2 separate regions of the Homo sapiens genome follow, and region 2 is linked to region 1. Evidence: fine-mapped expression QTL. Tissue or cell type: blood mononuclear cells. Region 1 holds a variant in brackets; the other region holds the start of a gene. All regions are shown on one strand. Distances are from middle to middle.

The links. PIP is the estimated chance that this variant, and not a neighbour inherited with it, causes the effect.
Region 2: ALKBH5 starts here. The variant in region 1 is fine-mapped to the expression of ALKBH5 in blood mononuclear cells (TOPMed, PIP 0.96).

Annotation. Positions count from the first base shown.
Region 1 is chr17:18,206,520-18,214,618 of GRCh38, reverse strand. It overlaps ALKBH5 (alkB homolog 5, RNA demethylase), which reads right to left. Exons shown (of 4, transcript NM_017758.4): 3 at 7,649-7,804; 4 at 4,665-6,400. The coding sequence ends at 6,223. Among named protein-coding and RNA genes, the nearest start is that of LLGL1, 15 kb to the left of the region's middle. The variant C/T (reference allele first, on the strand shown) is at 4,492.
Region 2 is chr17:18,180,666-18,188,764 of GRCh38, reverse strand. It overlaps ALKBH5 (alkB homolog 5, RNA demethylase), which reads right to left and starts at 4,937. Exons shown (of 4, transcript NM_017758.4): 1 at 3,752-4,937. The coding sequence starts at 4,521. RefSeq lists silencers at 2,787-2,836, 4,060-4,211, 4,370-4,459, 4,540-4,839, 6,976-7,270 and enhancers at 4,105-4,942, 5,050-5,289, 5,350-5,549.

The DNA of each region.
Region 1 (8,099 bases):
CACCCACCTTGGTCTCCCAAAGTGCTGGGATTACAGGTGTGAGCCACCACGCCCGGCCTACAAATTTTTTTTTTTTTTTTTTTTTTTTGAGACGGAGTCTTGCTCTGTCGCCCAGGCTGGAGTGCAGTGGCGCATCTCAGCTCACTGCAAGTTCCACCTCCTGGGTTCACGCCATTCTCCTGCCTCAGCCTCCCGAGTAGCTGGGACTACAGGCACCCGCCACCATGCCTGGCTAATTTTTTGTATTTTTTAGTAGAGACAGGTTTTCACCATGTTAGCCAGGATAGTCTTGATCTCCTGACCTCGTGATCTGCCCGCCTCCACCTCCCAAAGTGCTGGTATTACAGGTGTGAGCCTCCGCGCCTGGCCCAAAATTTTTTTAAAGAAATTAGCAGGGTGTAGTGGTGTGTGCACACCTGAGGTTGGGAGGCTGAGGCAGGAGGGTCACTTGAGCCCAGGAGTTTGAGGCTGCAGTGAGTCGAGATCATGTTACTGCACTCCAGCCTGGGTGACAGAGGGGCCCTAAATCCAATCGTGAATGTCCTATTAGGAGAGAGGCAGAAGCCAGGCACAGTGGCTCACACCTGTTATCCCAGCAGTTTGAGAGGCCAAGGCAGGAAGATTGCTTGAACCTGGCAGGTCAAGGCTGCAGTGAGCTGTGATCCAGCCATTGCACTCCAGCCTGGGTGACAGTGAGACTCTGTCTTTAAAAAAAAAAAAAAAAAAAAAAAGAGGAGATGTGGTACACAGAGGAGGAGGCCATGTGACCATGGAGGCAGAGACGTGAATCTGCCCGTTCCCAAGTCAAGGAATGTTAACAGCTAACAGAAGCTGTCAGAGGCAAAGAACAGGTTTTCCACTAGACAGGCAAGCCCAGTGATGTTGAGTTTCCCAGAATTTGAGAGAAATAAATTTGTCGTTTTAAGCCACCAGGGTTGTGGTGACTTGTTATGGCAGCCACGGGAAACTATTACAAGCAGGTATGATGCAAGTCCCTTTGTCATATCATGGCTGAATTATAAGCACAAGCAGACTACAAATACAGTAATTCAGCAAAAAAACTAAAATAGATTTCTGTGAGAAAAGATTGGTTATATGGAATTTATAAGAATATATATGTTTTAATAATTTAAATGCTGGCCAGGCACAGTGGCTCACGCCTGTAATCCCAGCACTTTGGGAGGCCGAGGTGGGTGGATCATGAGGTCAGGAGTTCAAGACTAGCCTGGCCAACATAGTGAAACCCCATCTCTACTGAAAATACAAAAAATTAGCTGGGCATGGTGGCAGGTGCCTGTAATCCCAGCTATTCGGGAGGCTGAGACAGGAGAATCGCTTGAACCCGGGAGGCGGAGGTTGCAGTGAGTGGAGATCACTCCACTCACTGCACTCCAGCCTGGGCAACAGTACAAGACTCCATCTCAAAAATAATATTTATATGCTATACTTCACATCAGTAAAATTTATAACTTTATGCGTATATGACATCATATACTAGGTCTGTCTTGTATCTCCAGCACTGCGCAATCTCAGCTCACTGCAACCTCCACCTCCTGGGTTCAAGTGATTCTCCCACCTCAGCCTCCCGAGTTATCTGGGACTATGGGTACGCACCACCATGCCCAGCTAATTTTTGTATTTTTAGTAGAGATGGGGTTTCACTATGTTAGCCAGGCTGGTCTCAAACTCCTGACCTCAAGTGATCCACCTGCCTTGGCCTCCCAAAATGCTGGGATTACAGGCATGAGCCACTGCGCCTGGCCAGACACTATTTTTTGAATGCGTGAACGTGACCTCTGGCCAGTCAACTTCTCTGGGCCTCAGTTTCCCCTTCCACACAAAAGGGTTGGAGGAATGGGATGGGGTCCTAGCGGGGTGAGGGATGGCACCAGCTGTTAGAGCATCTACTGTGTAGAAGACTGGGCTAGGGACAGGGGTTGATGGGACTCAGCACCTGGCCTGAGGCCCTAGGAGATGGCTGGGAACAGGCAGATCCAGAATCAGATCAGGCAGATCCAGAATCAGATGTAGAGTTCTAGGGACTACTCAGAGGATTATGTTACAGAGATAGAGTGCTACTGTACAGGTAGAGAGACAGCAGGAACTGCTAGGGCCAAAGCCCCCTCCTCTAGTCCTCCTATCTCTCCATACTACAGGGTGAAGGGCCTTTTTCACCCAGGGATTGGGAAGAGGCTGAATCCTTTTTTTTTTTTTTGAGACAGAGTCTCGCTGTGTCATCCAGGTTGGAGTGCAGTGGCGTGATCTCAGCTCACTGCAACCTCCGCCTCCCAGGTTCAAGCAATTCTCCTGTCTCAGCCTCCTGAGTAGCTGGGATTACAGGCACGCACCACCGTGCCCAGCTGATTTTTGTATTTTTAGTAGAGAAAGAGTTTCACCATGTTGGCCAGGCTGGTCTCGAACTCCTGACCTCATGATCCGCCTGCCTCAGCCTCCCAAAGTGCTGGGATTACAGGCATGAGCCACCACGCCCGGCCCGAATCTTTTTTTTTTTTTTTGAGACAGGGTCACCCAGGCTGGAGTGCAGTGACGCGATCTCGGCTTACTACAGCCTTGACCTCCTGGGCTCAAGTGATCTCCCACCTCAGCTTCTGAAGTAGCTGGGACTACAGGTGCATACAACCACACCTGGCTAATTTTTGTATTTTTGTAGAGACAGGGTTTTGCTGTGTTGCCCAGGCTGGTCTCAAACTCCTGGGCTCATCCATCTTGGCCTCCCAAAATGCTGGGACTACAGGTATGAGCCACTGTTCCTGGCTGAGTCTGACTTTTTTTTTTTTTTGTTTTTTTGAGACTGAGTCTTGCTGTCGCCCAGGCTGGAGTCCAGTGGCACGATCTCGGCTCACCGCAACCTCCGCCTCCCGGGTTCAAGCGATTCTCCTGCCTCAGCCTCCTGAGTAGCTGAGATTACAGGCGCCCAGCACTACGCCCAGCTAATTTTTGTATTTTCAGTAGAGATGGAGTTTCACCATGTTGGTCAGGCTGGGAGTTTTTTTTTTTTTTTTTTTTTTTTGAGATGGAGTTTCGCACTGTCCGCTGGGCTGGAGTGCAGTGGCACGATCTCGGCTCGCTGCAACCTTCGCCTCCTGGCTTCAAGTGATTCTCCTGCCTCAGCCTCCCAAGTAGCTGGGATTACAGGGGCCCGCCACCATGCCCAGCTAATTTTTTGTATTTTTAGTAGAGACGGGGTTCCACTATGTTGGCCAGGCTGGTCTCAAACTCCTGACCTCGTGATCTGCCCACCTCGGCCTCCCAAAGTGCTGGGATTATAGGCATGAGCCACTGCGCCTGGCCAGAAGTCTGACTTTTTAATGGCAATGGAAAATAGGGTCCTCCACAAAGACGGTTCCTCGCACTCCCCCAGCCCTTCTCTGAGCCCCTATCCCATGCCCCAAGAGTCAGAAGCTCAGGCATGGAGTGGGGGATGCTTACTTCTGCCATTTATACTCTGGATGACATTCTGCAAGTCACTTTCTCTCAGATCCGGTGTTTCCTTCTCCAGGGGATCCAAGGTCCACTCTGCCTAGCCCAGTGTCTACCCCTCCAGGCCCAACTAGCCCCAGACCACACTTGAGACTCTGGCCCCTCTCTCTTCAGACCCTCGCACTAGTTTTTAGACCAAGCCTGGGCCAGTTACTTGCCCCACTCTGGAGTCTCTCTTCTCTGGTAAATGTGGAGGTAAGCAGCTTATCCAAGTTTCCACAGCAAGAATTTGGCCAAGCAGACTAGCTCTGAGCACTAGAACAGAGTAAGAGACTCTAGATAGAAGCCCTTTACCAGGCATAGGGAGCCAGGTCTGAAGTCTGGAGGGACTAAAGCCCTCTGGGCCCCAGCCTTACCCATTGAAAAACATCTGCTTCATGCCAGTACCTGCACTCCACACTATCATGAGCATCTTGAAAGGAGGGACCAGAGTTTTGCTCACTATTGGGGTCCCAGTGTGGCTTGGTATACAATAGGAACTCAAGAATTTTTTTTTTTGTTTTTTTGAGACAAGGTCTTGCTCTGTTGCCCAGGTTGGAGTGCAATGGCACAATCTCGGCTTACTGCAACCTGTGCCTCCCAGGCTCAAGCAATTCTTGTCTGTCTCAGTCTCACTAGTAGCTGAGACCACAGCTAAACGCACCTGGCTAAATTTTTGTATTTTTAGTAGAGATGGGGTTTTGCCAAGTTGCCCATGCTGGTCTTGAACTCCTGAGCTCAGGTGATCCACCGTGCCTGGCCAAGTATTTGTTTAATGAGCAAAATCACTCGCATATTTTCCACAAAAGCCAGGTTCTCCCTTGCTTTTGTGCCTGCCATCTCCCCCTTCACCAGCACCAGCCTCTCAGTGATCATATCTAAAAGAGGGACTTCCAGAACTCCAGAAGGTGTGGTCCCTGGGCACCTGGACATTGTGGTTTATGAAGTTCACCCTCCTTGGAGTGGGAGAAAGGACAGTGGGGTGAGGGCAAGTCCACCTTCAGCCATAAA[C/T]CCAAGGCTAGGCACACAGGAGGCCCAGTGTCCAAGACCAACCAACTCCTCTGGGACGCTGGCGGCCAATGAGCTAGCTCTGCCTCCCCAACCCCTGTTTCAAGTTTAAGAAAGTAAAGGGATTAAGGAAGCACCAAAGGCAAGCCCTCTCTTACAACAACATCAGACAACTGTTTCAAAATATATTAGATTTGGTTTTTATTGTAGAGCACACATATCAGGGCGAAGTGCTGCACACACAACTACAAATCATTTTTGGGAAAAAAGCTGTAAAAAAAATAAAACTGCAACTGCTTTAATTATGCAGTCCCGACTTGAGAAATCCACGCTGGCAAAGGAGTTCTGGCCCCTGAGAGGGGCTTCTTGATGGTGGCTGCCCCAGATTTCTGCAGCCTATGAGGTCTCAGACCCGGACCTCTGTACACAAAGCCCCCAAAGTGGTGGTATCCTGGTTGCTGGGAGGGCCTCTGCTCTTGGCAAGCCCGGGTCCTGGCCTGGCTGACAAGAAGACATTCCTAATGAATCTAGATCCACAAAACCTTGCTGCCTTCCAGGATCTGAGTGGATAGAAGCTACCAAAGACTTTACCTTTTTTTCCTTATTATTTTTTGAAAGCCCCTTCACCAACTCCCATACCCTGAAGCGGAGGAGGCACCAGCCCAGTCTGCAGGCCTGAGCTCTGGCCTTGGATGCATGCTGCCGGCAGACAAGATGGGGCAGGCGCCTTCCTAGAAGGATGACATGAGGATGAGGCCCAAGCTGGCCAGTGGAGAAGGGAAGGGAAAGGAAAAAGCCAGGAGACTAAAGGGGGAAAAAAAACTCAAAAAAGAAAACAAAAACCCTACCACACACCACAACAATTTTCCATACCCCAAATGCTAGACTTGGAAGGACACCAGTCCCTCTAGCTAGAAACAATTTCTAAAACTGACCCAACGTGGCAAGTCTAACTGTTCCAAATAATCACACGCATATGCTCAAAAGGAGCAACCAGCAAAGAAGTGTGCTCTTGATAAGAGAGGTCAGGACCACTGCACTAGCCCCTCAGCAGCCCAAGGAACTGTGGACATGGCAGGCTAGTGGGCGTGGGTGGAGGACGCCTGGGGGGCTTAACAATAGCTTTGGGATGGCAGGGGCTGGCACTGTTTAAGCCCCTGCCCAGGCAACCTGAACAACTCTGCCGCAGGAGGAAGAAAGGGTGTTTGCATGAGCTTGCAGGGCGTGGATGGCAGGTGAGAAGTGGAGAACAGCAGAGCCTGTGAGGCTCCAGGAGACCTCAACCAAGTGCAGACATCAGTGAGGGAAAGGGGCGAGCAGAAGACTGAACTTTGTTTAGAACACTGCGAAGATTTACACTGAAAGCAAAATAATTTTCTTAACCAAAACATTTTGTTGCTTTTAAATAAACCCAGCCTGATACAGCCCCACTTAAAAGATGGCTGCTCTGCTCCACCACCTCTACTGGCCACTCCAGCATCAGCCTCTGTCCCCTATTGATGCCAACAGCCTTTCCATCCAGGAGGAATACCAAGAATATGAGAACCTAGGTCCTGGCCAATTCTATTCTTCAGCCCTAACAGGCAACAAAACCAAGGAAAAATATATAGAATCAAAAAAAACAAAAAACAAAAAACAAAAACCCCCCAATGAACAAAAACAAAACCCTCAAAACAAAAGGAGGGGCAACTACGTAAGGATGAGCCAGAGTTCCCAGGAGGGCGGCGGGTAGACTCAGTGCCGCCGCATCTTCACCTTTCGGGCAGGGCTGCCTGCTGCCTCAGAGCAGTCCTCTGAGGACTCGTATGACTTGCGCCAGTAGTTCTCAGAGCTGAAGCTACCCCTCCGCCGGTGTGTGGGCAGCAGCACCGAGCGCCGGTTCTCTTCCTTGTCCATCTCCAGGATCCGTGGCCTGCAAGGAAAGGGAGGTAGGACGTTATCTGAGAGGCTGGCAGGAGGCGCCTGGCTTTACCGCTGTACCTCGTCTCATCCTTGGGATGGGTCACTTCAGCTCAGTGGTCCTCAACGAAGGGTAGTCCTGGCAGAGGCCCTGGTATCGGAGGTTCTTGCCCACTAAGTGCCAGTGACCATCCCAGTCTTTGGGACATTTCCCAATTACCCTGTGGGGTCTGCCTGGCTTGGAGTCTGGTGCCCTGGGACACTGCCAGGGCTGCTGGACAGAGGTCTTCCCTACCACAGCCTCAAGACTCTGCATGGTTCTGCCATCTACCTTTACTTCCCAGCTCTACCCACTTTCTCTCTCTTGGGCCTCCCAACACCCCCTTCTCCACTTACTAACCCCATTACCCCCTGAAACCACAAAGCTCTTTTGTATCTCAGGGTTTAGCTCATACAGTATTTCCTGCCTAGAATGCTCTTCCATGTCTTCCTTATCCTTCTGGAATCAACTTAAACATTACCTCCTTGGAAACCTTCCCCAACACTTAAAAAATATTTTTTTTTTTTTTGAGACGGATTCTTGCTCTGTCGCACAGGCTGGAGTGCAGCGGTGCCATCTCGGGTCACTGCCAGCTCCGCCTCCCAGGTTCACGCCATTCTCCTGCCTCAGCCTCCCGAGGAGCTGGGACTACAGGTACCTGCCACCACGCCTGGCTAATTTTTTGTATTTTTTAGTAGAGACGGGGTTTCACCGTCTTAGCCAGGATGGTCTCGATCACCTGACCTCGTGATCTGCCTGCCTTGGCCTCCCAAAGTGCTGGGATTACAGGCGTGAGCCACTGTGCCGGCCAAAACATTTTTTTTCCTTTAAAAAAAATTATCTCCTCAAATACCTTTTATCCAATCCTTTTTGAAATAAGTCCCTGGTTCACTATTATCCAAGTCCCAAGATTCCCTCCTGACATCTAAGTATAATTCCACAAGGGTGTCTGGGTGAGACTGAACAAGGAAAGTCATGGGAAAGCCATGATATTGCCATCTGTTACAGTCTCTGCCTGACCCCTTCTCTCTGGGTGTACAGGCAGTTGGCCAGGGTTAGATGGGAATGTCACCAATGCCACCAACCCAGAGGAACCAGACATAAGGTTTTGAAAGGGTGAGCAAGCCAAGGCTCCTAAACAGCCTACCCCAGGCTTCTCCACCCTTCTCACCCTGCAGCCAGGCCTTTGCCAGCCTTTGCTGAGGGTCCTAAACTGAGTACCTGTGGGCAGCATCAGGGTCTGCCTTGCGGTGGGACCGCTTGGGTTTCAGAGCAGGGTCCCTGTTGTTTCCTGACAGGCGATCTGAAGCATAGCTGGGTGGTAACACGGAGCTGCTCAGGGACTTTGTTTCCAACCGGGGTGCATCTAATCTTGTCCTGCAAAGGAAACATGCATGGGGTCACCAAAGGGCCTCCGGTGAAGGTGTGGGCACCATCAGACCAATTCTCTGGCCAGGCCAAGTGGGAGCCAGCTAGACCTGGAAGCCAGCAGTCTCTGCTCTGTACCTCACTCTCCTTGAGGTTCAACTAGAGATTGGTCTAGCTGACTTTCAAAGACCCTCCTCAAGTCCACCTTTAGGAGTAAGGAATGGGAACACTTCTGTCTGGAAACTCCCAATGACAGGCTGTGCTACCCTAGGGGCAAGATCCCAGGGCTCGCTCTTAGCTGAAC
Region 2 (8,099 bases), 26 kb after region 1:
ATTTATTCTCTGCTTGCTCTGAGCTTCATGATTAACACCATGGTTCACTGTTAGCTTCCTTTCTTTTACTGCCCTCTGCCTTGTCAGGCTCTGGCAGCAGCAAGGGCAGCCAACCCCCCTGGCCCAGAGCTCCTCCTGACGGTGCACAGCCCTGACTTCATCCTGTGGTTCCTCCCCCTCCAGTGGAATCAGAAGAGTCCACACAAGAGATGTGGCCCAGGACCTATCTGCCCTACTTTCCCAACTATTTTAAGCCAGAAAGCTAAATTTTGCTTTCAACCAGCTGAACAAGATCAGACTATCCCAGAACTGACAGGGGTGCCCACTCCACCCAATACCAACCGTTAACTGGAAGAGTCACAGGCTGAGCTCACCAGTGCATGCCCCGTGCCTGGGTGATACAGTCATTTCCAGACGGCTGGCCTAGGCCTGGGTCTCTGGGCATGTGGCCACCACACCACAGACCACGTAGCAGTGATTAAAGATAGCAGCAAGTAAGCAATTAGCCTTGAAGTAATTATTCTAATTAGTCCAATCAGAGTCTGTTTTAATCTGCCCCATGCAGCCAACAGGGAATAGGAGAATGAATGACAGATAAAGTGATATGAAGATAAAAAATATTTCCCTAAAGTACAGCCTTAAGAGGGGATCCACCCAGGCCTAACATGGGAAGGTTACAAAAAACAACTGACGACTAGGTTTGGAAAGGAGTTTGAAGCACTTCCAGAAGATTCTGTGAGGCCTTGTTCTAAATGCCCAGGTTTAGACACTGCTGAGTCAATGTTTGTGACGCACCAACATCCATGCTGATCACTATTAAATATAAAATTGTATTCTTGCCATGCGGTCTTAGAGGGGTACAGATACCATTGCCACCAACACCAACTGAAGTCTAAGATGCCTACTACTAGAATCCCTCCCCATCTGCACCGCACCACTGTTTTCACCAGCCCCTCCCTTCCAATCTGCAGCTTTACTGCTCATCACCTCTGGGCTAGGATCTGTACCAGGAAAAGAGAAAGCACCACTTCTTACCAGTTTATATGCAGGATTTGACGACGGGCACTACTAATAGGCAGGTGTTCACCCACCTGCATACCAAGGTAAGCTAAGTATGCAGGTGCAAGAAGATTTAATTAGTGGAAGGGTCCAGACCCTAGAGCAGTGACTCTCAACTAAGGATTCTGCACTTCCCCTGCCTCGGCATTTGGCAGTGTCTGGACACTTTCTGGTTGTCATAAAAAACACTATTGGCACCTAGCAGATAGAAGCCAGGAATGCTGCTGAACAGTCTACAATGCACGAACAGCCTCAACAATGAAGCATTATCAAGCCCTGAATAACAATAGCACTGTTGAGAAGCCCTGATCTAGAGTTCACCAGAGCACCCTCAACCACAGTCTCTACTAATGAACTCCATCTGCCTCCCATCAACATCCACCCCCTCTTACCTATGGCTACTCCTGCTACTGCAGCCAAAGACACTGCTGTTGTGTATTTCTCCACCTTTCTCTGCTTGGCTCATTCCTAGTCACTTTTCACATTCCAGTTCATTTCCTCCCCTAAACTTCCAACACTCCAAAGTGGAAAAGATGTCCCCCTTCAGTGTGCTTCTGCAGTTACCTTCCTGGGCTATAACTTATCCTCCTGTCTGAGGCCTCCATGGGGCTTGAACTACACGAAGGGAAACTGTCATGTTTCAGGCTCCACCAAATCCCTAGTTCCTTCCCCAGTGAGAGAGCAGGGGATCACTGAGTGGTTGTATATGAAAGCAAGCACCCATTTAAGTACCTACCCTGTGCCAGGCCCTATCTTAGACAACAAATCACCACATTTAATTCTAATAGGCTTTGGAAGTTGGCATCATCCCCACTTACAGATGGGAAAGCCAGCTCAGAGAACGCCTACAAGATCCCAAAGCAAATGAGAGAAAAGCTGGATTCAAAGCCTGGGGCAGCACTTTTCAGGACATGGCTGAGCCTCCCACACTAACACCACAGCCAAGTCTGAATCCAGAAAGGGTTGACAGGGACTGGGAAAGCTTTAGGACTTTACTATTCTGAGGAAAAGATGAAGAGAATTTTCCTGATGATGCAATCCTGTTGCTGATCACTAACAGACCTGCATACTAAGAACTCGAAACTTCTGTTCTTAAAATACAGGGTGGGCATGTGTTAAGGAGAGTAGTAGTCCCAAAACCAAAAAAAAATGCCTTGTGATCCCCTCATTAAGCACCAGACCACTACTAGACCTCCTGACAACCACCCTGAGGGCCAATGACTACGCAGAAAATTAATATCCCGCTAAGAGACCAAATGGTCCTTGTGTGAGGTAATTTTTGCACTGAGAACCCGTCAATGGGGTCAGACCCCAACCTGCCTTACACAGCAAGCACCCGGAGAGGGTGTGTCCTGGAAATCCCATCTTAAAGCATTTTGCCAAGACATCCATCTAGGAGCGCCATGAAGATCTGAGAAGCTCAGAAGCCCATTATAAGAAGGCATCTGACAGCTAGGCTGTCCTCTAAGTTTCAGATGCCTAAAGAGCTAAAGTATCGCTTCTGCTACTACTGACTTCCCACCTTCCCACCAGGACGTCTTGGACATTACAAGGCTCTGCTGCCATCCCCAACATGGAAGCAGCCTCAGCTGTTAGACTCAAATGAAACAGATGACCTAATCTCATATCAAGAAGGCTCCAGGGACCCTGCTTCTCCTCATGACTTTGGCCCTACTGACTCACTTCAGAACCTGGGCTGCTCACGACAAAAGCCCAGTGTGTCCTCAACCTTGTATTTGGTGGTGGTCAACCAAGCTGCTCTGAGAACAGCTGCGGTCTAAACCTAAGATGTTTTGGGTATTACTGAATTACATTACTAGGTTTACCTTTTTCAGGACTGGAAGGAGGCCGCTTCCAAATAAATTTTCACTTCACATAAACAGCAAAGGTGTTCCCAATGGCAATCTCCTCTGGGGGCCAGGGCACTGAGCTAATTCTCAGCAGGATCTGGGAACCGAATATAGGCCAAAAGCCTAAGTTCTGCTGCTCACGCAACTGTAAGGCCAAACAGTCAAGAGACCAGCTGTATTCTGTTGTATTCAGTCCTGACTACAAGTAACACGTTCTTACAAAGAACTGATGGGCTCTTCTGCAGCCAGGAGGGAAGAATTTTAAGAGTGTGCTGCTCTGTATGCCTGGCCCAACCACTAATCTGTTCAACTCCAGGGAAGTCACTCCCCCTCCTGGGAATGGAGAATGTGCTTCAATTAAATAATCTCTGGGGCCTTTGCCTGTGACTACTTTCTCTGTTAAGGAATCCAAAAATGGCAGAACAAGAAAGACTTTTAGATAAATTAAAAAAAAAAAAAATTTTAAAGCATAGATTTGTAAATGGAAGGCCAGAATGGAAAACCGGAAAATCACAAAGGGACTTATGCTAAGAAATGGATGGTGGGAAAAAAAAAAATCAAAGGGAACAGCCTTCTGAAAAGATGGCTTTCGATGAATTCTCAGCCAAGTCAGTGATCCCGTCAAACCTGCCTTCGGGGACAGGATTTCCACATCGGTTCCCTATTTTCTTGCTATAGGTATCTTAAACACAAAACCCTTCTCTCGCTCCCTACAATCTACAAACAGAAGAACTGGTCAGAACTGTAAAAAACGCAGACTCCTACGGGCTGCTGCTTTCTGGGCCAGGGTGGGTAGCTAAGGCAGCAGGCGCAGGGCCGCCCCCTCCACCCGGGTGGGTTACCTGAGCACAGTCACGCTTCCCCTGCGCACCGGCAGGGAAAGCACTGGTTCCGACACCCGAATAGGCTTGAACTGGAACTTGCAGCCGAAGCACAGCGCAGAGTCGCTAAAGAAGGACACGGACACGATGGGGCGCTCGAAGATGTGGATGGGGTCCACGTGAGACACGATGCAGCCGCCGGGCTGGTAGTCGTTGATGACGGCGCTGTTGACGAAGCCCTCGGGGATGACGCGGTGCTCCACCAGCTTTTGGATCACCAGCTGGTGCACCCACTCGGGGATCTCGTCCACGTCGCCCGGCGGGTAGAGGCGCTCCTGGCCGGGCCCGCGCTTCTGCAGCTGGGCGCCGTAAGTGTAGCCTTCGCCGAAGAAGTACTTGTTGCGCAGTGGGGCCCGGTCCACCGTGTGCTCGTTGTACAGGCCCTTCTCAGCGCGGGACACCACCTCGTCAATGCGGGCCTCGATCTTGGCGCACTCGTCCTGGCTGAAGAGGCGCATCTGGCGGATGCCGCTCTTCACCTTGCGCGCCTCCTCCTCCTTCTGCAGCTGCTGCTCCTCATAGTCGCTGCGCTCGGGGTCCGAGTCCTCCTGATACTTGCGCTTGGCCCCGGACACAGGGTAAGGTTCGGCGGCAGCGGCGGCTGCGGCTGCGGCGGCTACGGCGGCTGCGGCAGCGGCGGCGGCCTCCCGGCTGCCCGCCTTATAGTTGTCCCGGGACGTCATGGACTTGAGCTTCTCACGCAGGTCCGTGTAGCCGCTGGCGGCCGCCATGGCCCCCACGACGCTGCTCTAGGGTCCTCCGGGGCGGGCGGGGCAGCCGGGCATGGCTCTAAGGGGACGCGCCCCGGGGCCCCCGGAGGGAGGGGGGTCCTTAGCGCCGAACCCCCATGCGTGAGTGGGGGACCCGGCGGGGGGCGTCGAGGGTCCGGGCGTGGGGTAGGGCCTCAGGAGCGGCGGGTCATGCAACGGTGGCGACAACGGGGCTTCTTCCTCCTCCACCTTCTCCACGTCCCGCGGGGCAGGGGCGCCGGCAGCGCCTCATGCCGCGGAGGGCTGCTGCGGAGACGCGGCCCGACTCCCGACCAGACCCTCGGACGCCCGGCCCGGCCCGCACTTTAAAGCTCTCCGCACGACGTCACGGGCAGCCAGCCCGACGTCCGCCAGCGCCGCTCCTTAGCGGGCTCCTCACCGCGCACGCGCAGTGCTGCCGGCCACCGCGGCTCCGCGCGCTACGGGCATGCGCGTGCGTGCAGGCCGGGTCGGCAGAGGCGCCGGCGCAAGCGCAGACAGGAACCGCTTGCCGTCCGCCGCCCCTCCCCCACTCTCTGAGGGGCTTCAAGGGAACGCTCTCAAATAGCAACCTGTCTTCACGCCGCGCCGCCTCCAGGACCGAAGGGCTCCCTCTACAGGGGTGCGCTCATATTGCCAACAGTGTCGCCGTGCCGCGTCACGGCATCGTCCGAACGCCCGCAGACGCCTCAACCCCAGGGCGCATTCACCAGGGAACCGCCACAACGTAGGCCGCTCCGTTACCTCCCCCTTTGGCGCTTCCACTTCTTTAATTGGGCCGTGGGCCACGCGCCGGGCAGGCCCTGACTGGAGTTTCCGGAAGTCGGTTGGTAATCATGCGTGTCAATCAGGCAGTCTCCTTAGCTACTGTGTCCGTCACTTAATTAGCGGCTGGGCGAGCAGCGAGGACCCCTAAAGGAGAAATGGGTGGTTAAATAAGTGCCTGAATGGAGACTCCACCTGAGTAAAGCCCTTAGAACGCCTAAGGAAACTTCTGAAACCCGCGAAAACTTCTCAGACTGCGGGACCTGCAGCACCCGGCCCCAGTTCTGAACCCAGATAGGAACGTCCGGCAGAAGCCAGACGCGCGTTGTCGGGGTACAAGCCAGCCTGCCGCCGCTGCCGCCGCCGCCCGGAGCGGACGTTTCACGAGTCACGTCCCGGTGACGGCGAGCGTGGGGGCGCGCTGGGGTTGGCGTCGAGCCTCCTTGGTGCTGGAGATGGGCGTGGGGGCACCTCCTACGGGGACTCTGGAAGAAAACTCCAGGAAACGAACGGGCGCAAGGCTAAGGCTAAGCTATAGATAATGACTACAGTCAATTCAAAAAAGTTTTGAAGCAGTCAGCAAAGGCGTTGCCGGGCGCGGGGCCTCACGCCTGTAATCCCAGCACTTTGCGAGGCCAAGGCGGGCGGATCACTTGAGCCCAGGAGTTTGAGACCAGCCTGGCCAACATGGCAACCCCATCTCTACAATAAAATTTTTAAAAATGAACTGGGCGTGGTGGCGCGCGCCTATGGTCCTAGCTACTCAGGAGGCTGAGGTGGGAGGATCCCTTGAGCCCAGGGGATTGAGGCTGCAGAGAGCCGAGCTGGCGCCACTGCACTCCGGCCTGGGCGACAGAGCTGCAAAACAAAACAAAAAGGCGTAGCCGTGCAGGATGCACTGGAGGGCTCCAACAAATGGGGGTCGGGGGGGATCTGCTGGAAAATCTCCCATGTCTCCCAGGATAAAGTTCCCCTGCTTTATTTGGCACTCAAAGCTTTTCTTCAAGACTCTTCTGGCCTTGGCTCCTCCTCTCCTCTCTTTCCATGTACACTGAGCCCCAGCCTGGTCCTCATCCTGTAAGCCAGGTCTACAAACATACTGTGTCTCACCTCCTGGCCTTTGCCCAGGCTGTTTGCCATGGCTGTTGCCCATGCCAGTTCCTTATCACCCGTCTCCCTCTCTCTCTCCCCCTTCCCCTCCTCCTCCTCGTTCTTTTTTGACAGAGTCTCTGTTGCCCAGGCTGAAGTGCAGTGGCACGATCTTGGCTGACTGCAATCTCGACCTCCCGGGTTCAAGACATCCTCCCACACCTCAGCCTCCTGAGTAGCTGGAACTATGTAGAGGCGTGTACCACCACACCCCGCTAATTTTTCTGTTTTTAGCAGAGATGGGGTTTCACCATGTTGTCAAATTGGTCTTGGAACTACTGGGCACAAGATCCTCCTGCCTCGGCCTCCCAAAGTGCTGGGATTACAGGCGTAAGCCACTGCGCCCAGCCTGGAATGGACATTTTTTTAAAAAGCTTATCAAGTTTTTACTATGTGCCAGGACCTGTGCATATACTAGCCCAATTAATCGTCCAAACAATTCAATGAGGAGGGCATTATTATTATTACCATTGTATATATAGGGAAACAGGCCCAGAGAGGTGAAATGACTTGCCCAAGGCCATACAGCGAGTATGTGGCCTAGTGATGATTCAAACCCAGGCTGCCTGGTTCCAGAATCTGTGCTGTCCCTCACCGGGGCTCCGAGAGGGGAGAGTCCTAGCTCAAGAGCAGTCAGGGAGGAACACAGGGAAGCTTCCAATGCAGTGTCCGTTATGGGAGAGGCTGTGTCAACCTAGAGAAGAGGTGATTCACATTTTGGCTCAACCTGGATGATCTACTTCCAAGAAGCCGCTTGTAGTCTGTGTGGGAGGCCCCAGTTGTATTCTGAAAGCCAAAAGGGCCCCCTCGTTTTCACTCTGCCACATCATCCCTTCCTGAGCCTCATAGTTCAGCTTGACTAGGGAAAAGGTTTTGGGGCAAAAGAATTAGCCTGACACCCCCTCCCCCTCACACACACCATGTATGATCTCACAACAATGAGAAATGAGGGGCAGAGGGCAGGCCTCAGGGCTGCCTCATGTTGGAGCCCACTGTGCTCTGTTTTGGGGGTCCCTATACTGAGCATCAGCGCCGCAGGCAGAACCCCAGGGGTTAAGTGAGCTGCTGCCAGGCATGGCCCCTGCACAGTGGTAACTTGATTGACACCACACTCTTTCTGGTGAGTTCCTTACTTTCCTCACCTTGGGGTCTGCTTCTGGGGAAAGCCAACCCAAGGCAGTGGTGAAAAGCAGGACAGCCCTGTGGCATTTGTATCAGGGGCTCTTTCTTGATCCTCTCCATCCCAGGATGGTCTGATTGACCCCCTAGTCCTGCCAGCTGGGCCTTCTAATCTCTCCCCAGTTACCAACTTCTCCCCACCCATCACCACCACTAGAATCTATGACAAGTTTTCCAGCTAACACTGCAGCAGCCCCCTCTGGTCTCCCCAACTCCTACATTCACTCACCGTTCAGTGGTCAGAATGGCTTTAACAAAGTACAGTCTGTGCAGGTTGTGCCTCCCCTTCCCCCTCTGGAAAACCTTTGAAGGCTGCTCATGGCTCTTGGGATGAAATTCTAAATTTTTTTTTTTTTTGAGACCGAGTCTCGCTCTGTCGCCCAGGCTGGAGTACAGTGTCGCGATCTCGACACACTGCAACCCCCGCCTCCTGGGTGCAAGTGACTCTTGTGCCTCAGCCTCCTGAG